7 linked regions of the Homo sapiens genome follow. The protein of the gene in region 6 purifies or fractionates together with the protein of the main gene of each other region. This does not show direct contact. Each region holds a gene or a part of one and is shown on either strand. Other genes may lie near its edges.

What was found.
Region 1: the proteins of PTPN5 (region 6) and DHCR7 purify together in Homo sapiens (affinity purification with mass spectrometry, with the first as the bait; one large-scale study listed by BioGRID). This does not show direct contact.
Region 2: the proteins of PTPN5 (region 6) and TOMM70 purify together in Homo sapiens (affinity purification with mass spectrometry; one large-scale study listed by BioGRID and IntAct). This does not show direct contact.
Region 3: the proteins of PTPN5 (region 6) and DHCR24 purify together in Homo sapiens (affinity purification with mass spectrometry, with the first as the bait; one large-scale study listed by BioGRID). This does not show direct contact.
Region 4: the proteins of PTPN5 (region 6) and ALG1 purify together in Homo sapiens (affinity purification with mass spectrometry, with the first as the bait; one large-scale study listed by BioGRID). This does not show direct contact.
Region 5: the proteins of PTPN5 (region 6) and HACD3 purify together in Homo sapiens (affinity purification with mass spectrometry, with the first as the bait; one large-scale study listed by BioGRID). This does not show direct contact.
Region 7: the proteins of PTPN5 (region 6) and SPTLC2 purify together in Homo sapiens (affinity purification with mass spectrometry, with the first as the bait; one large-scale study listed by BioGRID). This does not show direct contact.

Annotation. Positions count from the first base shown.
Region 1 is NC_000011.10:71,438,394-71,441,893, forward strand, and holds part of DHCR7 (7-dehydrocholesterol reductase), read right to left. Parts: intron 3,048-3,500; coding exon 2,834-3,047; intron 2,444-2,833; coding exon of another isoform or gene 2,393-2,443; intron 691-2,392; coding exon 486-690; intron 1-485. UniProt on the Homo sapiens protein: Oxidoreductase that catalyzes the last step of the cholesterol synthesis pathway, which transforms cholesta-5,7-dien-3beta-ol (7-dehydrocholesterol,7-DHC) into cholesterol by reducing the C7-C8 double bond of its sterol core.
Region 2 is NC_000003.12:100,391,090-100,394,589, forward strand, and holds part of TOMM70 (mitochondrial import receptor subunit TOM70), read right to left. Parts: intron 1-3,500. UniProt on the Homo sapiens protein: Acts as a receptor of the preprotein translocase complex of the outer mitochondrial membrane (TOM complex). Recognizes and mediates the translocation of mitochondrial preproteins from the cytosol into the mitochondria in a chaperone dependent manner.
Region 3 is NC_000001.11:54,880,696-54,884,195, forward strand, and holds part of DHCR24 (delta(24)-sterol reductase precursor), read right to left. Parts: intron 3,079-3,500; coding exon 2,923-3,078; intron 1-2,922. UniProt on the Homo sapiens protein: Catalyzes the reduction of the delta-24 double bond of sterol intermediates during cholesterol biosynthesis.
Region 4 is NC_000016.10:5,078,343-5,081,842, reverse strand, and holds part of ALG1 (chitobiosyldiphosphodolichol beta-mannosyltransferase), read right to left. Parts: intron 3,087-3,500; coding exon 2,965-3,086; intron 2,780-2,964; coding exon 2,741-2,779; exon of another isoform or gene 2,737-2,740; intron 2,096-2,736; coding exon 2,036-2,095; intron 898-2,035; coding exon 787-897; intron 1-786. UniProt on the Homo sapiens protein: Mannosyltransferase that operates in the biosynthetic pathway of dolichol-linked oligosaccharides, the glycan precursors employed in protein asparagine (N)-glycosylation.
Region 5 is NC_000015.10:65,554,463-65,557,962, forward strand, and holds part of HACD3 (very-long-chain (3R)-3-hydroxyacyl-CoA dehydratase 3), read left to right. Parts: intron 1-424; coding exon 425-498; intron 499-2,276; coding exon 2,277-2,441; intron 2,442-3,500. UniProt on the Homo sapiens protein: Catalyzes the third of the four reactions of the long-chain fatty acids elongation cycle. This endoplasmic reticulum-bound enzymatic process, allows the addition of two carbons to the chain of long- and very long-chain fatty acids/VLCFAs per cycle.
Region 6 is NC_000011.10:18,743,299-18,746,798, forward strand, and holds part of PTPN5 (tyrosine-protein phosphatase non-receptor type 5), read right to left. Parts: intron 902-3,500; coding exon 708-901; intron 132-707; coding exon 24-131; intron 1-23. UniProt on the Homo sapiens protein: May regulate the activity of several effector molecules involved in synaptic plasticity and neuronal cell survival, including MAPKs, Src family kinases and NMDA receptors.
Region 7 is NC_000014.9:77,515,638-77,519,137, forward strand, and holds part of SPTLC2 (serine palmitoyltransferase 2), read right to left. Parts: intron 2,531-3,500; coding exon 2,401-2,530; intron 1-2,400. UniProt on the Homo sapiens protein: Component of the serine palmitoyltransferase multisubunit enzyme (SPT) that catalyzes the initial and rate-limiting step in sphingolipid biosynthesis by condensing L-serine and activated acyl-CoA (most commonly palmitoyl-CoA) to form long-chain bases.

The sequences.
Region 1 (3,500 bases), about 53 Mb from region 6:
ACTTTCTGGGTCTTGCTGCTTTTAAGATAAAGAGGAAGACTTCCATGAGGCCTCCAGCCTCACCTGGCTCTGAGCTCCTGAACGCTCTCTGGTCAGGATGCGGGATGTTTCTGAGTGTCCCAGACTTGCCACCCTCTCTCCCTACAGGGGGTTCCTGGAGCATGCACTCTTGCCTCCACTCTACCAGGTTAACTCCCACACACCCCCAGATTCTACCCAGGTGTAATCCCCAAGGGAGACCTTCCTGGACCACGCCTGGCTGCGTAGAACCTGCCTCCTCCCCTCCCAGGGCTGGCAGAGACAGGCACCCAAGGATGGCTTCCTTCACCAAGTGCTCGCCGGCTGCTTCCTGGTGACACCTGGGGAGGGCAGCTGACTCTCTTTTACAAGCAGTAGATTAAGGTCATGGGAATACGCTCTGGCTTGCGGGTTCCCCCAGAGCCTGCCGGCATCGGCGTTTCACCCTCTCCAGCCATGACAGGCACCTGCAGGACGTTGACCAGGACCATGGCATTGGTCACATGGCTGTGGAGCTCCCGCTGCTTCGCTGCGAAGGACAGGTTGATGAGGGTCCAGGCGACGATCCCGGGGCGCCCATTGAAGAACAGCTTGAAGTCAAACCACTTCCCGATCCGAGGGTTAAACTCGATGCCCATCATGTAGTTGTAAAAGAAATTGCCTGTGAATTTGCTTAAAAATATAAATAAAAGATACATTTAGTGGATGAGCATATCTCACAAGATGAAGCCACCTTACTTAGCGAGAGCCCAGCACTGGCCCAGGGTCCTAAAGGGTAACGTGAGACGGCGCAGGCAGAAGCTGGCCATGAGCCGCTGGGACCCCCACGGCTGGAATGCTTGTCGGCTGGTTCCTGGCGCCCTCATTCACTTTGCTTTGCATTCAGCTGCTGCTCAGCAGAGACTTCCTTAGGCAGAAGCCCAGGGGCACCTGCTCTGCACCCGGGAAGGGTGGGAGACCGGCCCTGGGCTGGTACCTGGGTTTCTCTCTACCCTTCTCCAGATGCCCTTGACGCATGGCACAGGTGAGCTGAAGAACTGGCTTGATTGCACTGAGATTACGTTCTGGGGCCCAAGCACACGGTTTGAAGCCGACGCAGGGCACGTGGGCCCTCATGGGTGAGTGACATTATAAATCACGCCAACGTAGAGAATGACAAACGCACCCTGGGCCCGGCTTCCAGCATGTGCAGGACAAGTTCTTTGACCAGTTACCTGAATCCCCCAATCCCCGGAGGGCCAGAGCATCAGCCGAGATAACCCCTGTGGAGACCCTGACTAGGTCTAGCTGGCTGAGGACACACAACAATTTCTGTGTTAACTAGAAAATCCTATTTTCATGTCCAGTTCCCTCAGGTAGGGTAAGTAGAAAGAAGCAAAACACACAAAGTCTACATGATTATAAGGTAGCGAGGATGATTTCCAGGAGCCATTGAAGGCCAGCCTCGTTATCTGATAACACACAAGCTACAAAGTGTCATCCTCCAGAAACATTTCCCAAGAGCCTAGGTGTAAACCACACTGGGGTTTTTTGGATCCCCCAAACTGAACTGTAAGTCCCACTGCCTACAACTGTCCACAAGAGAACCCCCCAAACATTGGTTTATGATGGATGGATGGATAGATAACAGGGTGAGTGGGTGGAAGGATGGATGAATGGGATGGGGAGAGGAGCAGGTGGATGGATATATGATAGGCAGGGTTGAGCTGGGGTGCAGGGTGGCAGGGATCAGGTGTGTTCAGAAGTGTCACCCAGGAAGCCAGAGGGAGCAGGCTAGGAGGGCCTGAGAGGGTAAGGGAGGCCGGTCAGGAGCTGCGGACATTGCTCAGGCAGGAGGTTGACCTGGATGAGATGATGCATTCCTTCCCCTCGGCACATGCCATTACAGGCCCTGATAGAGTGGATGGATGGGTAAATGGATGGATGACGGGCAGGTGGATGGGTGGGTGGCTAGATGTGTAGGTGGGTGGGTAGGTGGATAGGTGGATGGACAAATAGATGACGGGTGGGTAGACAGACGGGGTGGAGGGTGGATGGGCAGGTGGATGAGATGGATGATGGATGGGTGGGTGGGTAGGTGGAAGGATGGGGAGATGGGCAGGTGGATGGGTGTGTGGCTAGATGTGTAGGTGGGTGGGTAGGTGGATGGGCAGATGGATGAATGGGTGATGGGAGGGTAGATGGATGGATGATGGGTGGGTGGATGTGGGTGATGGATAGGTGGATGGATGATGCATTGGTGGGTGGGTGAATGGGATGGGGCAATGGGTAGGTGGATGATGGGTGAGTAGGTAGATGAATGGGTAGGGGGGTGGATGGGTGGGTGGGGAGATGGGCAGGTGAATGGATGAGTGGACAGAGATGAGTGGCTCACCACTGTCCAGCCATGGGAATGGGTACAAGCCAGCAGGGCTCTCCTGGGAAGCTGTTAATTAAAGCCACAGGGACAATAAGACTCTTCACTAAGGTTGTTTTGGGCCTCACCAGCTTATCCAAAGAAAGAGGCAATGGGCTGCCTGTGCCCCAAGCCAGAAGTTTTTCCTGGCTTCCTTACCCCCACGCCAGCCCTAAAGGCAATGACTTGGCCACCACAGCTGACCTGGCCATCTTCAGCTGCATTCTTGCCAAGGCTGGAGAAGCCACCAAACATTCAGAAAGGATGTTCCCCAGGGTGAAGCAAGTTCCATCCCCCTCCTCCTCTTCCACGGATTCTCAGTGCTCAGGGCTTTACAACCACCTGCCCCAGGCAGCAAGAAAGGCCAGGGGTGAAGTTTGCACTTTCTACATCAGGCTGGACCCGCTGCTAAGAACATACCAGTCTCTGGCGCTGGTGGGGAAGAAGTAGCCCTTGACCATGGCGAAGGTGGAGACGGCATAGCCAAGGATGTTGGCGCACCACAGCAGTGGGATCCAGTTGTCGAAGATGATGGTGGGCGAGAACCAGGACAGGAGATGAGCGTTTGCAAACCAGAGCAGGTGCGTGAGGAGCCAGGCTTGCAGGCCATTGATCTGATACTTGTTCACAACCCCTGCAGATGAAGGATTCAGAAATGAAGGCGCTTTCCCAACCCGCAGTGAGGAGCTTGGCTGGGCTGAAGCATGCCTGGCGGGGGCCCTGGTCACTTTCTGGGCCTCTGCTGCTGCGGACCCTCATCTGGGGCCCCAGGAACCATCTCTGAGGCCCCTATACCCTTGGCCAAGGAACTACCTGCTCCTAGGAAGAGGGAGGGGAGGCTGAGTCCATCCTTTGGTTCTGCATCTCGTTAACTGGCCATAGGCTGAGTGACAGGTGTGCAGTCTGATAGGGAGGTCAGGGCTGAGGGGCAGAAGCAAGTGAGGATGCCCCTGTGGTATGCCTGGCCCCCTCTGTAATTGTTGGGGAGCACCTCAGCCCATCCACCCCTCAAAACAGGGAGCTTCTGGGGGCAGAGTTGGGATGCGGTTCCAGTCTGCACCCACGTGAGAGGCACAAAGCCAGGCTC
Region 2 (3,500 bases), on a different chromosome or scaffold from region 6:
GAGATGGCACCGCTGCACTCCATCCTGGGCAACAGAGTAAGACTCCGTCTCAAAAAAAAAAGTATAGCAAATACAATAATGTATAGTACATATACTTGAGAATGACAATAAACAACTGTGTTACTGGTTTATGTGTTTACTATACATATACTATACTTTTTGTTATGTTAGTATACTCCTACTTTTTTTTAAAGTTAACTATAAAATAGCCTCAAGGCAGGTCTTGAAGGCAAGAGCTACTCTAGAAGAAGGCTTCTTATCATAAGAGATGACAGATCCATGCATGTTAATGCCCTTGAAGATCTTCCAGTGGGACAAGATGTAGAGGAGGACAGGGATACTGATGATTCTGACCTTGTGTAGGCCTAGGCTAATGTATCTGTGTCTTAGTTTTTAACAAAGAAGTTTAAAAGTTTAAAAAAAAAAATTTTTTTAATAAGACAAAGCTTATAGAGTAGGGATATAAAGAAAATATTTTTGTGAAGCTGTACAATGTGCTTGTGTTTTAAGCTAAGTGTTACTTATTTTTTAAGAGACAAAGTCTCCCTATTTGTCCAGGCTGGTATCGAATTCCTGAGATTAAGCAATCCTCCCACCTTAGCCTTCCAAGTAGCTGTACGTTAAGCTAAATGTTACTAAAAAAAGTTAAAAAAATTTAAAAGTTCATAAAGTTAAAAAGTTACATACAGTAAGCTAAGGTTAATTATCGAAGAAAAGTATGTTATAAATTTAGTGTAGCCTAAGGGGTATAGTGTTTAAACAGTATACTACAGTAGCATTCAGTAATGTCCTAGGCCTTTACTTTCACTCACCCACTGACCCAGAGCAGCTTCCAGTCTGACAAGCTCCATGTTAAGTGCTCTAAACAGGTGTACCATTTTTTATCTTTTATACTGTATTTTTACTGGATCTTTTCTATGTTTAGGTACCCAAATATTTACCACTGTGTTACAGTTGCCCACAGTATTCAGCACAATAAAATGCAGTACAGGTTTGTAGCCTAGGATCAATAGGTTATGCCATATAGCATAGGTGCGTAGGAGACTGTACTATCTAGGTTTGTGTCAGTATACTTGATGAAATCCACTAATGATGCACTTATTGGAACGCATCTCTACTGTTAAGTGATGCATGACTATATATTAGGTGGTTGGTAAATTTTTGAGCCAACAAGCAGAAAATTATTAGTCCAAAGAGTAGCAACTGCATATACACACACACATAAATCCAATATTATTCAAGTGAGACACATGATCTAAAGTAAATACTTCAGGTAATACACCAAAGAAAACATTGGGAAACATATCTTTTCAAACAGTATGGAAGATTTCTTTCTTTTCTTTTTTGAGACAGAGTCTTGCTCTGTCACCCAGGCTGGAGTGCAGTGGTGTGACCTCGGCTCACTGCAACCTGTCTTCTGGGTTCAAGTGATTCTTCTGCCTCAGCCTCCTGAGTAGCTGGGATTACAAGTGCACGCCACCATGCCAAGCTAATTTTTGTATTTTTAGTAGAGACATAGGGTTTCACAATGTTGGCCAGGCTTGTCTTGAACTCCTGATCTCAGGTGATCCACACACCTCAGCCTCCCAAAGTGTTGGGATTACAGGCATAAGTTACTGTGCCCAGCCTGGAGATTTCTTAAAGAACTAGAATAGACATAAAAAGAACTAGAGTAGGTCTACCATTTGATTCAGCAATTCTACTACTGGGTATCTACCCAAAGGAAAAGAAGTCATTATATCAAAAAGACACCTGCATGTGTATGTTTATTGCAGCACAATTCACCATTGCAAAGATATGGAACTGGCCAGGCACGGTGGCTCATGCCTGTAATCCCAGCACTTTGGGAGGCAGAGGTGGGTGGGTCACCTGAGGTCAGGAGTTCAAGACCAGCCTGGCCAACATGGAGAAACCCCATCTCTACTAAAAACACAAAATTAGCTGGGCATGGTGGCGCATGCTTGTAATCCCAGCTAGTCGGGAGGCTGAGGCAGGAGAATCGCTTGAACCCGGGCAGCAGAGGCTGCAGTAAGCCGAGATTGTGCCATTGCACTCCAGCCTGGGCAACAAGAGTGAAACTCTGTCTCAAAAAAAAAAAAAAAAAGATAGGGAACCAACCTAAGTGCCCACTGATAAAAGTGTAGTATATATACCCATGGAATACTACTCGGCCATTAAAAAACAAACATGAAATAATGTCTTGCAGCAACTTAGATGGATTTGGAGGCCAATATCCTAAGTGAAGTAACTCAGAAATGGGAAACCAAATACCATATGTTCTCACTTATAAGTGGGAGCTAAACTGCAGGTACACAAAAGCATACAGAGTGACATAACGGACTATGGAGACTCAGAGGAGGGGGGTGGCAGAGCATGTAAGTGATTAAAAAAAAACTACATATTGGGTACAATGTACACTTGGGTGATGAGTGCACTAAAATCTCAGACTTTACCACTATACAATTCATCCATGTGACCAAAAACCACTTGTACCACAAAAGATATTGAAATAAAAAATAATAAATATATCTTTTCTCTCTTCAGTGTACTGAGACTTGTCAAACGAGGCAGAACCTAGGAACATACCCCTCAGCTCTTAATGACATGAAATCTACTCTAGAAAACAGGTTACATTTTGAAATGAAAGCTACAATATTAAGGTACAATCCAGGTAAATCTAGTGGAATACAAAGTAAGAAAATCAGGTTTTGCTTAGGATAGTCAGTGAAGGCTACTCATGAGAATCCGCTCTGAAATAAAAATGACTAACAAAAGACAGGAAAGTACTCCAGGAAGGAAAAATAACCCTAAAAGGATTAGCCCACATATAGAACCTCAGGAGATCAGAAATGCACCAGCCTCTAAAAACAAGTCCTGCAACACGATTACATGACTACATTGCAAAAAGCTGTCAATGATATACATCTGGCAATAAGAAAACTATTATAAATTCTCAGCATTTATAAAATATTAACCTGATGATCACGTATAGTCACTGTAAAAGAAAATGAGCTAGAATTAGGTACATTAATCTGCGTGTGAGAAAATAAAATGGGTATTAATTTGTCACCATGATGACACACTTATACCCAGTTAAAATATACCTGAGATGGTTTGATGTTTCTCTTAAAATGGTTTTATTGTTTTAAATTTCTCAAACTCAAAAAGCATATATTATACTTGAATCACAGCTTTATAGAAGTAGCAAATAACTCTGGAACACTTACTGTATGAGAAACAATGTTTCAATACTTATTGACCAACTGTTACTTTTTCTTTTTTTTTTTTTGAGATAGAGTTTTGCTCTGTCGCCCAGGGGGGCACGATGTCCACTCACTGCAACCTAAATAACTCTGGAACACTTACTGTATGAGAAACAATGTTTCAATACTTATTGACCAATTGTTACTTACTTACTTTCTTTCTTTTTTTGAGACAGAGTTTTGCTCTGTCACCCAGGCTGGAGTGCAATGGCAGGATCTCAGCTCATTGCAACCTCC
Region 3 (3,500 bases), on a different chromosome or scaffold from region 6:
TGGAGGTTGCCGAGAACTGAGATAGCACCACTGCACTCCAGCCGGGGCCACAGAGCTAGACTCTGTCTCAAAAAACAAAAATATAAACAAACAAACAAACAAACAAACAAAACCCCCACAATGCATAAAAGAAGAAATTAACAAATTGGGAAAAATTAAAACTTCTGATTTGGCCAGGCGTGGTGGCTCACGCCTGTAATTCTAGCACTTTGGGAGGCCAAGGCAGGCAGATCACCTGAGGTCAAGAGTTTGAGACCAGCCTGGCCAACATGGTGAAACCCCGTCTCTACTAAAAATACAAAAAATTAGCTGGGTGTGGTGGCACATGCCTGTACTCCCAGCTACCCAGGAGGCTGAGGCAGGAGAATCACCGGAACCTGGGAGGCGGAGGCTGCAGTGAACCAAGATCGTGCCACTGCACTCTAGCCAGGGCGACAGAGTGAAACTCTGTCTCAAAAAGAAAAACTAAATAAAGCTTCTGGTTTTCAAAAGAGAAGCCACAGACTGTGAGAAAATATTTGCAAATCATGAATCTAATAAAGGATGTTGTTTCAGGGTCTAATATCCAGCATCAATAAGGAACTTAAACAAACTTACAAGAACAAAACAACCCCCATTAAAAAGTGAATATAAAAAGGACATGAACAGACACTTTTCAAAAGACAAGCATGTGGCCAAGAAGCATATGAAAAAAAGCTCAACATTACTGATAATTAAAGAAATGCAAATCAAAACCACAATGAAATACCATCTGACACAGTCAGAATGGCTATTATTAAAAAGTCAAAAAATAACAGATGCTGGTGAAGTTGCAGAGAAAAAGGAACATTTATACACTGTTGGTGGGAGTGTAAATTAGTTCAACCATGTGGGAGACAGTGTGGTGATTCCTTAAAGACCAAAAAACAGAAGCAGCATTTGACCCAGCAATCTCATTACTGGGTATATATACCCAAAGGAATATAAACCATTGTATCATAAAGACACATGCATGTGTATGTTTACTGCAGCACAACTCACAATAGCAAAGACATGGAATCAACTTAAATGCCCATCAGTGGTAGACTGGATAAAGAAAATGTGGTACGTATACACCATGGAATACTATGCAGCCATGTTCCTTTGCAAGAACATGGATGCAGCTGGAAGCCATTATCCTTAGCAAACTAATGCAGGAACAGGAAACCAAATACCGCATGTTCTCACTTATAAGTGGGAGCTAAATGATGAGAACACATGGACACATACAGGGGAACAACAGACACTGGGTCCTATCAGAGGGTGGAGGGAGGGAGAAGGGAGAGGATCAGGAAAAATAACTAATAGGTACTAGGCTTAATACCTGGGTGATGAAATAATATGTACAACAAACCCCATGACACACGTTTACCTATATAACAAACCTGTACAGGTACCACTTAATTTAAAAGTTTAAAAGAAAAAAAAAAAAGATGTTTCCAGAATATATAAGAAAACCACCTGAATTTTTTTAAATTGGCAAAAGATTTGATCAGGCCTCACCAAAGAAGATATACAAATAGCAAACATGCACATGGAAAGATCATTAGTCACTAGGGAAATGTGAATTAAAATTACAATGAAAAACTACTACACATCTATTAGAATGGCTAAAATTAAGACTAACCATATCAAGTCTATTACAATGTGGAACAAGAACAACACTCACGCTGCTGGTGGAAATGTAAAATGCTACAATCACTTGGAAAAAAAATTTGGCACTTCCTTAAAAAGTTAAATGTACACCCACCTTATGATCTAGCCATTCCATTCCTAGATATTTGCCCAAGAGAAAGGAAGGCATGTGCCCATACAAAGACTGTTCACAAATGTTCCATTTTATTTGTAATTGCCCCAAACTGGAGCCAGCCAAAATGTCCATCAGTAGGTGAATGGATAAACCAGCTGTGATACATCCACACAATATGTGTGGGAATATGACTCAGCAGTGAAAGAGAATGAACTATTGACACACCTTTCAACATGGATGAATCTCCAAATAAAGATGTTGAGTGAAAGAGGCTAGACAAACAAAAAGTACTGTATGATTCCATTTATATAAACTCTAGAATCAAACTAATTTATAGTGGCAGAAAGGTCATTGTTTGCCTAAGGCTGTGGGGGGCGGGTAGGGGAAGAGGCAGGGCTAGGGGCTAGAGGAAGGGATTACCAAGGAGCATGAGGAGATTTTGGGGTGTGATGGGTATGTTTGTTGTCTTGATTGTGGTAAGAGTTTTACCACACTTTAAATACGTCAATAAAGCTATTAAAAAAAATGGCACAGAGAGATTAAGTAACTTGGCCAAGGTCTCACAATAATAACAAAATGCCATCAAGTAGACATACCATATTTAATGACTACCCTATTATTGGATATTGTGTTGTTGTCAATTAGAAATAAAGCTGTGATATAATCACTCTGTGTTGGGTATCTTTATACTGAAGCCTATTTCCTTTTTCCTTAAGCCAGGTTTCGAGAAGTAAAATTACTAGATGGGCCAAAAAGTATGTACATTTCGAAGGCTATTAAACAAGAGGGTTTCCAGGAAGCTTGTAACAAGACCCATGTCTCTCAGTCACTTCTGTAGCCCATTTTTTACCAGCACACTTCCTTATCAGGAAGGGGTAAGTAGATTCCTTTTTGCCTCTCATTTTTGCTCACGAATTCCCCATTCCTGACTTCCTGTGGAAACGCAAAGGGTTCCCCTGACCTATTATGACCCATCTCTCCCCTGGTGGCTGTGAGGCTTGAGGACAGCAATGGCAGGGAGTATCTTCTATGACTGTGGGCATTGGTCCTGTCCACTCTGCAATGCCCTTGGCTAAAATCATCTCCCTATGAGTCACTTGCACCAGGGGCAGTGCCCCACCTGCTCCCAGAGCCCGGAAAAGTGCTACTCTCACCTGTTTCTTGGTGTCCACTTCCAGAATGTCCATCAGGTTGATCATGATGTTTTTGTGTGTCTTCTTGTACTTCCCGACACGTAGTGAGACAGTGAGCCAGCCAGGGCGCCCCGTGCACATGAAGGTCTTGCTACCCTGCTCCTTCCATTCCCGCACCTGCAACCACAGGACAGAGGGTGAGCTGGCCCCACTGGGAATCCCCAGAGCAGCCTGCAGCCCTGCTTTCTTCAAGGGCGAGCTGGGAATGATGCCTCCATCAGGCACTGGAGAAACAGAACAATGAAAAGGCCTGCTGGCCCTACCCTCTGGCACCTCCCTGGCCAGCAAGGCTGACAGAAAAGCCAACATATTGCTACACCACAAGGCAGAATGATGAAAGAGCTAGAAGAGAGGATCGAAGTGTTCTGAAAACATTAACTCTAGCTGGGAAGTTCAGAAAAGGTTTTGTAATGGTGATAATAGCAAGTATAAAAATGAGGACCATTTACTGGGTATTCCCAACACACTAGGCATCTACTGCACACTGTCTTGTGTAATTCCTACAACAGTCCCAGGAAGTTACGATGACACCCTTTTTT
Region 4 (3,500 bases), on a different chromosome or scaffold from region 6:
CACCTGGAATCCAAGCACTTAGGAAGGCCAAGGCAGGAGGATCACTTGAGGTCAGGAGTTCAAGACCAGCCTGGCCAACATGGTGAAACCCTGTCTCTACTAAAAATACAAAAATAAGCCAGGTGTTGTGGTGGGCTCCTGTAATCCCGTAATCTACTCGGGAGGCTGAGGTGGGAAAATCGCTTGAACCCAGGAGGCAGAGGTTGCATGAACTGAGATCATGCACTCCAGCCTAGGCAACGGAGCGAGACTGTCTAAAACAAAGACTAGGTGGAGAGTCCTGCCAGGAAAAGGCCTTCAGCCTCCAACTGCTCTGCTCACTCGAAGCTGGAAGATGCAGCTCTAGAGACGCATCAGGACCAAGGCACGACTCCCCACTTGGAGAAATCAACGGGGAAAGAGACGGAGGCAAAGGAGAACCATCTCACTGGGAGAGGCGACGCTGTTTGACACATCGTCCCCGTACCTCCCAAAGCCACTGCCCTCCCACACCTGGGCAACAGTGGCCCCAACCCCAGGCCCAGCCCTCCTGCAGGAAGGAAGAGGACTGAATGGAGGGCGTGGCAGGCTGAAAGGACGTGGCCTCCTCAAACCCCTTGGTAAACGGCCCCTGGGGCCACCTGGCAGGGAGGGGCTGGCACACCAGGAAGTAGCCTCCTCCTGGGAGTTCAGCCAGAGCCCAGGTCCCGTCCCCCAGTGGCCTCCAGAGCCACCTTTTCAGAAAAAGTACATCCCGCCCACCCTGTTCCCCCCGCCTCCTCCCTGAGCCTCCTGCTGGCCTCTCACCTAGAAGCAGGGGGTAGTCCTCGGCCTCCAGCCAGGGGGTGCAGACCTGGATGTGCTGGAAGTGCTTCTGGTGGATGAGGCGGCTATAATACTCCCTCAGAGGCCCTTTGCCTTCACAGAGAAGAGCAGACACTGCCATGGACCCATCTCTGTCCCTGCCACGTGGCCCCAGGCCCAAGACACTCCCCCCTAGGAGGGATCCCTTTCCCAGAAGCTCCACCCCTCAGCAGCTCCAGTCAGGCCCCATCCGGGCCCTTCCAGAAGCAACCCAGGAGCCCTGAGACCTGCAGGGGTGTGTGCACCCTGACCCCTGACGCATAGCCTTTCACCTGCAGCCAGCTGGCCTCGGGCTGCAAACATGGCGGGGTAAGCACTGGCCTGGCACCCGACCGCCCACTGGGTGGACCCAGCCTTTTGTCTGTGTTGTGCACAGGGGACACGAGGACTCCTCCTGCCCTGGCACAGCCCCCAGAGCATATGGCGCGGGTTCCAAACCACTCCTGGGAGCCTAGAGGCCAGAGGAGGGAGGAGAGCAGGACCAGCAGCTGGCCCAGACCCGGCCTCTTCCCACACCGCTTCCGCTTTTCTCCCTCCTCACTGAGTCACCTTGAAAGGGCTCAGCAGCAGTAACTGTGGGACAGGGGCTCTTCCGTTTGAAAAATTAAGAGGCTTGGTTAAGGCACCAATGACATGGCCGGGCACAGTGATTTGTGCCTGTAATTCCAGCATATTGGGAGGCCAAGGCGGGTGGATCACCTGAGGTCAGGAGTTCAAGACCAGCCTGGCCAACATGGTGAAACCCTGTCTCTACTAAAAATACAAAAATTAGGCAGTTGTGGTGGGCACCTGTAGTCCCAGCCACTCGGGAGGCTGGGGCATGAGAATTGCTTGAATGTGGGAGGCGGAGGTTGCAGTGAGCCGAGATCGCACCACTGCACTCCAGCCTGGGCGACAGAGACTCTGTCTCAAAAAAAAAAAAAAAAGACACCAATGACGTAACAACAACAAAAAAAAGATGCTTGGAAACTACTGAAAAAGTAGAAAGCTTGGTATCTACAGATTCAAATCTGGGCTCCCTGCCCTGCCTCTGAGCCTCAGTTTCCCCCATGTCAAGCAGTATAAGACCCTATGGCAGAGCTGCAGTGAGGATTAAGGAGACAAGATCATGGGAAGCACAGGGTAAAGGCTGCGTGCCCCTCCCCCTCCGCCATCCCCCAACCAAACAGACACCCAGGGTCCCAGGCAGTACCTGTTATCACACAGACGAGAGAAGGAAGGTTGTGTCCATCAAGAGTCAGTTGTTCAAACTCTGTGTTTAGAAAAAGAAACAATTCTACATGGAATTTCTGATAGAATTTTTTTTTTTTTCTGACAGACTCTCACTCTGTCACCCAGGCTGGAATGCAATGGCGCGATCTCAGCTCACTGCAACCTCTGCCTCCTGGGTTCAAGTAATTCTCGTGCATCAGCCTCCCAAGTAGCTGGGATGACAGGCGCCCACCACCATACCTAGCTAATTTTTGTATTTTTAGTAGAGACAGGTTTCGCCCTGTTGGCCAGGTTGGTCTCGAACTCCTGACCTCAGATGATCTGCCTGCCTCGGCCTCCCAGAGTTCTAGGATTACAGGTTTGAGCCACCATGCCCATTCAGAAAAAAATTTTTAAATAAACAATAGCCAGAGTCACCTGGTCAGGTGGAGAAAGAGCACTGCTCTGGCGGGGAGGCCACCAGCCTGTGTGAGATACTCTCCTGGAGGGGGCATTTCAGCCTGAGGGCCTGGTCACTCAATGACCCAACTGGGGATTCAGGGCGGCCCACTTCCACCACCCCCGCTGTCCCCAGGCTGCCCCACCCAGTGGCCTGGGACAGGAACATGCTGCAGGCCAGGCAAGCAGCTTACAGCTCAGTGGCCCCCGACAAGCCCAGAGCTCCTCACCGCAGCCACACACCTACTTTCTAAAGCTGCCAGCAGGATGGAGAAGTCTTCGTCCTCTATGAGAAGAGAATTGAATGTCAGGGGCCTGTTTCTAGACACCCCTCTTCCAGCTCACAGGCCCTCCCGTTCTCATTGAGACCGTGGCAGGGTGGGAGCATGCAGGACTGGCAGGGGTGAGGAGAACACAGGTTGGCCAGGTGCCCGTCACACCAACCCCAAGTGCCCCAGGGGTCCTGCAGACCTGTCCAGCTCGTGCTGCTGACCAGCAGGGCTGGCCGCTCACGGAGACGCGTCACCAGCCCGCTCCCAGCATCCCGCTCCGTGAAGGCCGACCGCTCCGTGACTGGGTCCTCAGGTTCTGAGCTGAAGGAGCAGAAAAAAAGCCTGTGAGAGGCCATAGAGCAGGCCCGGGACCCAGGAGAGGCATCTCCTGCCGTGGCGAGGCCTGCAGGCTCCCAGAGGTTGGGGTGCCCAGCCACATCAGCAGCACCAGGCCACCCCTGCCATCTGAGGCCTGGGCTTGCTTTCTCTAATATTGTTGCTGGGTGCTAAGGTTACAACAGCAAACAAGACTGACTCATTCCTTTTCTCCACGGGACTTACTGTCTTATCATCCCCTGGACTCAAGATGAGGGTGCAGGGACGCCCTCCCACACCACCCCAGCTTACCCAGGGCACACCTCAGGGTGCGTAGACCTGCACAAAGGTCCCCTCCTTAGCCCCATGAGACACCCCAGGGGACACACAGGTCCACAGATCCTGCCACAGGCCTGGGAA
Region 5 (3,500 bases), on a different chromosome or scaffold from region 6:
GCCTTTTGGCTACAATCAAGTATGATATTCGTGCCAGGTACAGTGGCTCATGTCTGTAATCCCAGCACTTTGGGAGGCTGAGGCGGGTGGATCACAAGGTCAGGAGATCGAGACCATCCTGGTTAACACGGTGAAACCCCGTCTCTACTAAAAATAAAAAAAATTATCTGGGCATGGTGGCGGGAGCCTGTAGTCCCAGCTACTCGGGAGGCTGAGGCAGGAGAATGGCATGAACCCGGGAGGCGGAGCTTGCAGTGAGCCGAGATCATGCCACTGCACTCCAGCCTGGGCAACAGAGCAAGACTCTGTCTCAAAAAAAAAAAAGTGTAATATTCGCATACTTGGGAAAGAACTGCACCAAGCTGGCTTTTGGATGGCCTTGCTCTGCTCAAGTTTGCAGTAACCCACATTTCTTTCTTTATAGCTCAAGGACATGGTGCCAAAGGAGACAATGTCTATGAATTTCACCTGGAGTTCTTAGACCTTGTGAAACCAGAGGTATGTTCTTTCCTTTCTCACTTCCCTTCCCATTTTAGGAAATGAATACCAGTAGTTTAGTGAAATGGGGAGCAGGGTTTGTGGAGAGAAGAAGATAAAAACCAAAGGGGAATAATAGAGTTCTTTTATTTGGAACAGAGCCCAGGTTTTAGCTGCAGAGGAATGGGAAAGTCAGAGACCCCAAGTTGAGTCAGGGCCCTGCCATTTATTAGCAGTGTGATCTTGAACAAGTCTCTTAACTTCTTCGAGTTCTGGTGTTCTCATGTGTTAAATGAAGGTCTGGACTAAGTGATCCTTCCAGCTCTGATATTCTCTGGTTTTAGTGATGGCAGAGGAATATGGCACCCATTGAGAACAGAGTTACATAGAGTGGTTGAAGCCCCCACCAGGGGTTACTTTCATGTGACTTTGCCACAGTTGCAGGTGAGAAAAATAGAAATCAGAAAGGGTGAAGGCAGCTGGCCTTCAGAAAGAATGCTGCAGATATCATCAAAACTTCCCTTCCCTTAGAGCCTGAGGAAGCTTCTCTCATAAGCAGGGAGAGAATCCAATAGATGGGGTATTTTGGCTTCTGGAATTACACTTAGCTCTGGTGGCTTGAGCTTCTTGATTTCCGTGCGCAGGTGCTCAGTTGTTTTGAGAAAGCATGAATAATAACCAGTGGTACAGTGGGCAGAGAACCTGTCATGGAGCTTCCTTTGGAGAAAAGGGACAGGACATGTAGACAAACAATGAGCTGGAATGGCCTATAAGAATTTGAGTTTAGTTGGGAAGACTCCCCAAATTGACCCCTGTGAAAAAATCTGTAACTGATCCAATACAGTTCTGATCTTGATGCAGGTGTTTCTAAAACCGGGGTCTGCTGAGCCAGGACAGTCATTTTCATGGGAGGAAAATTTATAAGCTGAGGGTAATTGGATGCAGTACCCTTGAGAGGGTGATTGGACATAGTACCTTGCATGATGTGGCTGTGGCAGGAGGTTCATGCTAGTTCCCTCCAGCCTAACCAGGAACTATTTGCCTTTCTTATCCTGATATCCTCCTGTATCATTCACTGGGGGAATCAGAGAAGGACATTATGTCCTTACCAGTTCTCCATGCCAGCCGTTGGTCTAGATCAACCTTTTTGGCACCAGGGACCAATTTTGTGGAAGGCACTTTTTCCACAGATGGTGGAATGGGGATGGTTTCAGGGTGATTCAAATGCATTACATTTGTTGTGCACTTTATTTCTGTTATTATTACATTGTAATATATAATGAATACAACTCACCATAATGTAGAATCAGTGAGAGCCCTGAGCTTGTTTTCTTGCAACTAGACAGTCCCATCTGGGGGTGATGGGAGACAGTGACAGATCATCAGGCATTATAGTCTCATAAAGAGTGAGCAACCTAGATTCCTTGCATGCACAATTCACAATAGAGTTCACGCTCCTATGTGAATCTTGTGCCAATGCTGATCTGACAGGAGGCAGGGCTTAGGCAGTAATGCAAGTGATGGAGAGCGAGTCTAAATATAGGTGAAGTTTCACTCACTTGCCCACCACTCAGCTCCTCCTGTGTGGCCCGATTCCCAACAGGCCATGGACCAGTATCAGTCCATGGCCCAGGAGTTGGAGACCCCTGGTCTAGATGTTCCCTTTGCATCAGGACTTGCAGGACCAGAGAAAGAAGGAGAATAAATATATCCTGCAGCTTCTATGTACGGCGCCCCTGGCATGGTGCTGCTTCAGGGAACAGAAGAGGGCATTCTCACATTTTCACTTTCTCTCCTAGCCTGTTTACAAACTGACCCAGAGGCAGGTAAACATTACAGTACAGAAGAAAGTGAGTCAGTGGTGGGAGAGACTCACAAAGCAGGAAAAGCGACCACTGTTTTTGGCTCCTGACTTTGATCGTTGGCTGGATGAATCTGATGCGGAAATGGAGCTCAGAGCTAAGGTTAGTAAGGATCCTAGGATCTAGCCATTGAGGACAAATCATGGGGAACCCACGTTATTCAGGCCACTTCAGATACCTCTCGGTCTGAAAGAATAGCTACAAAGTTACAAATTCATTTAAAGACCTGGTGATGTGATTTTCAAGAAGTATTGGCTATGTATTTTATAGACTTTCCTTCGGTTGAAATCTGTCTGATGTTTCTCTTACAACTAGACTAAGGTGATAGATGTTGAGGAGAAGACCACTGAAGTAAAGTGCAATTCTTATCACATCATATCAAGAGTACATACGGCCGGGCACGGTGGCTCACGCCTGTAATCCCAGCACTTTGGGAGGCCAAGGTGCGTGGATCACGAGGTCAGGAGATAGAGACCATCCTGGCTAGCACAGTGAAACCCTGTCTCTACTAAAAATACAAAAAATTAGCCGGGCGTGGTGGTGCATGCCTGTAGTCGGAGCTGCTCAGGAGGCTGAGGCAGGAGAATGGCGTGAACTCGGGAGGCGGGGCTTGCCGTGAGCCGAGATCACGCCACTGCACTCCAGCCTGGGCAACAGAGCGAGAGTCTCAAAAAAAAAAAAAAAAAGTACATACTGTCAACGTGACACATCACTGTTGATATTAACCATGGGTTAGCTGGCTTGAGGTGACGCTTATCAGGTTTCTCTACCATAAGGTTATTTTCCTCTTGGCTCTCCTTGGAAGGAAGTCACTATGTGTAGCCTACATTTAAGGAGCAGGGAGTTATGCTTCCTGTCCTTTAGATGGAGGGAGTATCTACATAATTTATTTGGAATTCTTCTGCATAGGAGAATAATTATGCATGTCTATTGTCTCCCATTTATTTATTCAATCATTTATATCATGTGAGTACATGGGTATTTATTTTATACTTTGAGTTATAATCTAATATTATTTATTTTGTTGCTCAAATTCTTCCAGCTTTGGCACTAACTGGCCTTTGGTTATGTCCTCATCCTGCCCATCTTTCATTTGGCTTTTGTATCTTTTTGAGAAAGCGCCATCATTATGGGACTGTTTTTTTTTTTTTTTTTGAGCAC
Region 6 (3,500 bases):
AGGACTCCCCAAAGCTTACTTACCGTGGGTTCCAGCTGTTTCAGGAGCGTCAGCAAAGAGGAGACGAGGTTTGTGGCGTTCTGTGACCAGATGTGGCCATAACCGCTGAACCAGAGCACCCCACAGGCAAGCTGGGGCACAGGGGAGCAGGCTGAGTATGGAGCCGGCCCCCTTCCCCCGTGTTCCCCCAGCAGAGCTCACCTGCAGCCTCAACCTGGCCCTGCATGGAGGCTCCTGAACCTCTAAGGTCCAGACCGGGCAGCTGAGAGCAGGGCCCCGGTGCTGCGTGCCCGGGGAGGCCTCAGGACTCTCCTTGGAGAAAAGCTGACTGAAGGGAACCAAGAGAAAGCCCTTTCCAGAGAGGACCTCACAAATATGTACATCAAAAGAGTAGTCTCCTAGAAAGGCCTCCACAGACAGGAGTTCTCAGGAGAACCCTGTACGGCTGGGAGCTCAGGGGTCGGGGAGGCCCTGTGTTCTGGATTCTTAGGTTAGGGAGGCAGGGTGTGAGGTCTCAGATGCTGGTGCGGTAGCTCAGAATTCCAGCCTTCCCCTTATCCCAGCCTTGAGGGCTTGGAGCTCCTGAGGAACACCAGGGAGGCCCCTTATCCTCCTGCCTTCCAGGTGGCCATCCTGGGGAGGAAGTGGGAGGCTGGCCCTCCACCCACCCTCTCTCCAGACCCTTGTGAGGCCTGTGCCATCCTTACCAGGAACTGTGAGGCAGCGAACAGGCACAGGCTGCTCCTGACAGTGAGGGAGTGGCTCCCAGCGCCTCGAGGTGGTGGCTTCTGAGCTGGATCTGAGGGCGGCGAGGGAGGAGGGGGTGGCGGCATCTCTCTCTGTGAGTCCTGGAGCCCTTCAGCCTCGTCCAGTGCCTCCATCACTATCGGCTGGGGGAGACCTGTGGAAGATGGGCCATGCGGGCCGATGACTCCGGCCCTGTCCACAGGCAGGGCTCTGCCACCCCTTTTGGGGTGGCTGTGGCTGCCTCTCAATCTGGGATCAGTCAGCGTGGCTCCACTTCCAGCAGTCACCCTCGATTAGCAAAGCAATATTCACCTACCTTCGTCAGAAAGAGCTAAGTGTGGGTGGACAAATTATTTCTCTTTTATTTCTCCAGTAACAGAGTTAAAATGGCAGGAGGTTTTCCAGGGAGTTAATATAGTTGTATTTACGCAGCTTCATTCTTTTCCATTTCTTAAGGAAACAAAAAACAACCACCTCAAACTCAATTAAAAAAGAAGCAGCAGCAGGAAAAAAAAAAAGACATGGCATAACCAGGCCATGACCCTGAGCAACCCACCCATGCCTGCCCTGTGGATTTTTGTCTCATGTGGGCCATGCCCTAACTGGGGCTGGAGGCTAGACTCTTGACAAGACCACATCCATGTGCCCCCACCCCATCTCAAGACTCCCTGCACGATGAGAGGGGCTGGGGGCAGTTAGGGCGAAGTGCCGGAAAATCTTGGTGTAGCAGAATTGATACCAGATGTCTGGGGCCAGTTCTGGGTCTGTCCCTAGTGACTCCGGAGAGTCACTCCCTCTCTGGATCTTAAGTTTCCCCACCTGGAAGATGGGGTTTGGGTTCAACCCTAGTTTTTCTAACTGTGCTTTACAGAGCCCTAGTGTTTTCTCAGGTGCACAGGGGCTGAGGCCCTATGTCTGCCCCTCAAGGGCAGAAGCTCTGCCTGTCCCTGTACCATATACTGGATTTCTGCTAAGATTATTTCAAGGCAGAGTTCTGCTACTAAAGAGTCTGAATACCATTGGCTTAGATCTGAGCCCCTGGCTATAGCATGGGGATTCTAGCTGCGGCCACCTCAGTGAGTCCCAGATATTGGAGGTCTGCACCCAAACTCACAGGATTTAGTTTACTGTCAAGAAAAGAGGGACCAAAACATGGATGTATACAGTGTGACAGCTGGGAAGGGGCTGTCTACATATCATGCTGTATATGGGACAATGGACTTGGGTGACAACAGAACCATGTGGGCCCAGCATAGCCGTTTGTCCATGAGCTGCTCGCTCACTTGACAAACATTTACTGAGCACCTCCCATGGCCTGGATCAAGACTGTGGTGCAGAGAACCCGGTCCTGGAGCTGTGTTTGTAGCACAGGCTCCTGCTTCCCAGCCGGGCCCATTTCAGCTTCACTCCTTGCAGTTCCTCAGGTAAGCCCGCCCCCTATGCTTTGACATGCTGTTCTCTCTGCCTGGAACATCCCTCCAACACTCTGTTCCCCTCCCCTGCCTCCCACACACTTTGCCAAGGTAACACCTATTCATCTTGTAGACCTCAATCAGATGTCCCCTGAAGTAGGTCCTGCTCTATCACATACGAGCACCCCATGCCTCTCTTTCATATCATCATCATCATCAGCAGCAGCAGCAATATGCCTGGAATGTGCAGGGGCCCTTCTCTGTGTGCCTGGGTTAATTTTTTAATTCTTCACAGCACCCCTATGGAGTTGCTACTACTATTATCCCCATTTTACAGAAAAGGAAGATGAGGTGCAGAGAGGTTAACAGAGCTGCCCAAGGTTGCTTAGCTGGTAAGGGTAGAGGTGGCTTCAATCCAGGGCAGTCAGATAGGCTTCAGGCTACATTACACTTGCCATGGGTTGTAAAATAATTTTTGAATATCGTCTCCTCTACCCACCAAGAAGTTCCATGAAGGCAGAGTGGTATCAGCTTTGTTCATCCTCATGTCTACAGCATGTAGCGTAAGTCCTGGTGTGTAAGGCTACAATAAATGTTTACTAAATGAGTGAATGATGATGGGCAAAGGACACTCTTTTACTCAGTTTTTTTTGCCTGATAAATGGAGATAATAATACATACTTTGAAAAGCTGTTATAAATATAAATATATATATATATATATATATATATATATACATTTTTTTTTTTTTTGAGATGGAGTCTTGTTCTGTCACCCAGGCTGGAGTGCAGTGGTGCAATCTTGGCTCACTGCAACCTCCGCCTCCTGGGTTCAAACAATTTTCCTGCCTCAGCCTCCGGAGTAGCTGGTATCGCAGGTGTGTGCCACCATGCCTGGCTAATTTTTGTATTTTTAGTAGAGACAGGGTTTCACCATGTTGGCCAGGCTGGTCTTGAACACCTGACCTCAAGTGATCCACCCACCTTGGCCTCCCAAAGTGCTGGGATTACAGGTGTGAGCCACTGCGCCCGGCAGCTGTTATAAATATTTTAGATACTACAGACGAAACACCTAGCATAGTGTTCAGCATTTAGTAAGTACCCAATAAATGGCAGATTATAATGCTAACACATAATTAATTCTTGTCTTCAAAAGGCTCCAGTCTCGTGGCTAAAACAGACCAGTAAAGACATGTTTACAATACAGTGCATTAAGCAATAAATCTAAGTGCCAATGGAGTCTAAGAGGGTCACGAGAGGGTATCTACCTTTGTCCATGGAGGTTATAGTTCCTGACCACCTGAGCAGTCAGTTCAGATCCTGGGAGCAAGGTGAAAAAGGA
Region 7 (3,500 bases), on a different chromosome or scaffold from region 6:
CTCCCAGATTCAAGTGGTTCTTCCGCCTCAGTCTCCCGAGTAGCTGGGATTACAGGTGCCCCCCACCATGCCTGGCTAATTTTTTGTATTTTCAGTAGAGATGAGGTTTCACTGTGTTGGCAAGGCTGATCTCAAACGCCTGACCTCCCAAAGTGCTGGGATTACAGGTGTGAGCCACCGCACCCAGCCAGGAAAGGCTTTCTTAAGTTTATTACTAGGTATTTTCTTCTTTTGAAAATTGTAAAAGAAATTTTCTTTTCATTTGTTCATTGCTGGTGTATAAAAGCACTAATTTTTTGTGTGCTGATCTTTTACCCTGCAACTTTGATGAATTCATTTATGAGCTCTAGCTGTGTGTGTGTGTGTGTGCGCGCGCGCGCATGTGTGTGTGTGTATTTTACAGCACTTTCTATATACAGAATCATGTCATGAGGCCCATTATTAAATGAAAATTAATTTGTATCTCATAATGGTCTAGTACACGTTTAGTTCCATAAAACATCATAAGACAAAATGACTTTAACAAATCCATGGTTTCAAAAAATGCACTTTATGCTTTAAAAAACTAAATGGGAGGCAAAGCCCAACAATCCCTCAAGAGAATCTTATGAAAAGGATTAGAACTCTCAGTTGGCAAACATACTTGTTGGCAACAGAAATCTCCTTAGATATCCTAAGGAGATATCCTGGTTACATCTAAATTCTTTCATGAATGTGTACAGTTCTCAGAAGTCAAAGTTGTGGTCAGAAGGCATGGATTACTGCCATAGACACTGGTTATAGTTACACAGACTTTTTTTTAAAGGCACATTGAAATTCTGAGTTAACAGGTGAACATGAGAAAGAAAAAAGAAAATTCTTAAAACATCAATAGAGTAGGAAGGAAAGAAAAGCTGAAATCTCTAGGTTAAAAAAAATCATCACAGAAATTCACCAGTAAAATTTCTGAGAAATGAGAAAAATCCATTGGAAAAATCTGACAGGCATAATCAAAATAAAGAAAAAAAAGATACAATATCAAAAAGTTGAATCTAATTGGATATTGTCAGAATGTAATTAAGAATATGCTCACAACACTGTGCCTATAGTTAACAATACTGTATTCGACATGGAAAAATTTGTTAAGAGGACAGATCTCATGTTAAGTGTTCTTACTACAATTTTGTTTTTTAAAAGGGAATACACTTATACTCATAGAAATTTTGCTGTGTAGAAACAGAGAAGAAAAGTCAAGTCTTCGGCTATTCAGGAATACAAAATGTCCATCAAATTGTTATAATTAACTTTTATAAAGAAGCATTCATAATGTTCTTTAGGATTAGTAGCTCTTGCCAGGCAGTGGCTCACGCCTGCAATCCCAGCACTTTGGGAGGCTGAGGCAGGCGGATCACCTGAGGTCGGGAGTTCGAGACCAGCCTGACCAACATGGAGAAACCCTGACTCTACTAAAAATACAAAACTAGCTGGGCATGGTGGCGCATGCCTGTAATCCCAGCTACTCAGGGGGCTGAGGCAGAATTGCTTGAACCCAGGAGGCAGAGGATGTGGTGAGCTGAGATCACGCCATTGCACTCCAGCCTGGGCAACAAGGGCAAAACTCTCTCTCAAAAAAGAAAAAAAAAATTAGTAGCTCTCTAACTCATTAATGGATATTTCTAGCAACTAATTTTATGCAAATGTCATGTTCTAAAGCTTTATAAACTCCCAGATGGCAATAATGATTTAAACTCTGAAATCTTAGACTTGCAACAATAACATATTAAGAGAATATATAGAGATGAGAATATCTTGAGATAATAAATAATTAAGCTTAGTAATAATGATCCCCAACTAGATGCCTGGCAGTGTGGTGGGTGCTGGGATATAGAATCAGTAAAACAGACTTATTCCTATCCTCAATATTTATCTAATGGAGAAGACTGCTATTAAATAATTATAGGTGTGAAGAATTTAGTAAGGGAGAATCTCAGGATTCCAAGGGAACACAGAGCAAGAAGGTGTGGGGCGCCCCTGAGCAATTTTCCTTTAAATGGAGATGTGAAGAATGAGTGGCAGTCAGCCAGGCAGAGGGGAGAGAAAGCTCAAGAGAGAAAATTTTAGACAGAACAACATATGAGAAAGCTTAATGTAGAAATAGCTAGAGTGGAAAGAGAATTGTAGAGTCCATAGTGAGGGAGACAGTAGAGCAAGACAAAGCCGGAAAATTCTCCAGAGCTCTCATGATGCAGGTGTGGTGGGTGACAGTTTTTTTGTAAATGCCAATGTTTTTGGTAGCACTGTCACCCCCTCTGTCTTAGGTGCTCACAAGAACATCAAGATCAATATATTATGAATTTCATCTAATATACAGGCCCTTTTAATAAAAGGCATATTTATATCAAGGTGAAAGTGCCTACTTACAGTATCAAGTATTTCTTTGGTATGAGCTGCTGACAGGCAAAACCTGGCTCTGGACTCAATAATTGGGGTGGCAGGAAATCCAACCACAACGACACCGATGTTCCGCTTCAGCATCTCCCGTCCAAAGGCGCTGCAAAGGGGAAAACAAGAACAGAAACCAGGAGGAGTGAAAAAGCACTCATTACAGAGGACCTGCTGTCCTCAAAGATTTCAACTCTTTGGTGATGCAGGCATTGGAGACTTCTAATAGGAGTTTCCTTTAACTCCTTTTAAAGTTAAAATTGACAGCTCACAAATACTTTTAAAGTCAATCCTAAAGCAGTCTTCTCCTATATGGTGTCCTTCACAAAACTGAAATAACCAGCCTGGGCAACATGGTGAAATCCCGTCTCTACCAAAAATACAAAAAATTAGCTATGTGTGGTGGCATGCACCTGTAGTCCCAGCTACTCAGGAGGCTGAGGCATGAGAATCTCTCGAAGCTTGGAGGCAGAAGCTGTAGTAAGGCAAGATCACACGACTGTACTCCAGCCTGAGCAACAGAGCAAGGCTCTGTCTCAAAAAAAAAAAAAAGTGTCCCTGATATGTAATAGTGGTTCAGAGGCTTCAAAATGAACCTGTATTTAATTAAAATCTGGTCCTTGAAATGTTAAGCTTGGCAGTTTAACATTAATCCGCAAATTCTGAGGATTCTGCAGCTGTGGGGGATCTGCTGTAACACGGCACATCTTTTCTGCTAGCAGAATGGCTGACTGGCATGAGCTCTCCAGATCACACGTTTCTTTAATTGTCTTGGGAACAACACTGCTTCAGAATTCAGGGCTTCCTTTGGTGTCTGTCAGGCCAGTTCACCCGCTGGCTTCAGCTGATTACTCAGACCACACAATTCGTATTTAACAATCCCCCACCCCTATCGTAAGCCAAATTGGAGGCCCTGTGGCCTTACTCCACATCTGTATCTTGTCTAAATAACACATTCTAACTTTTAGTTAATTTTGTCTACTAAATTATGTGGGTTTTTTTTTGAGTCTCTCGCTTTGTCGCCAGGCTGCAGTGCAGTGGCACGATCTTGGCTCACCATAACCTCCACCTCCCAGATT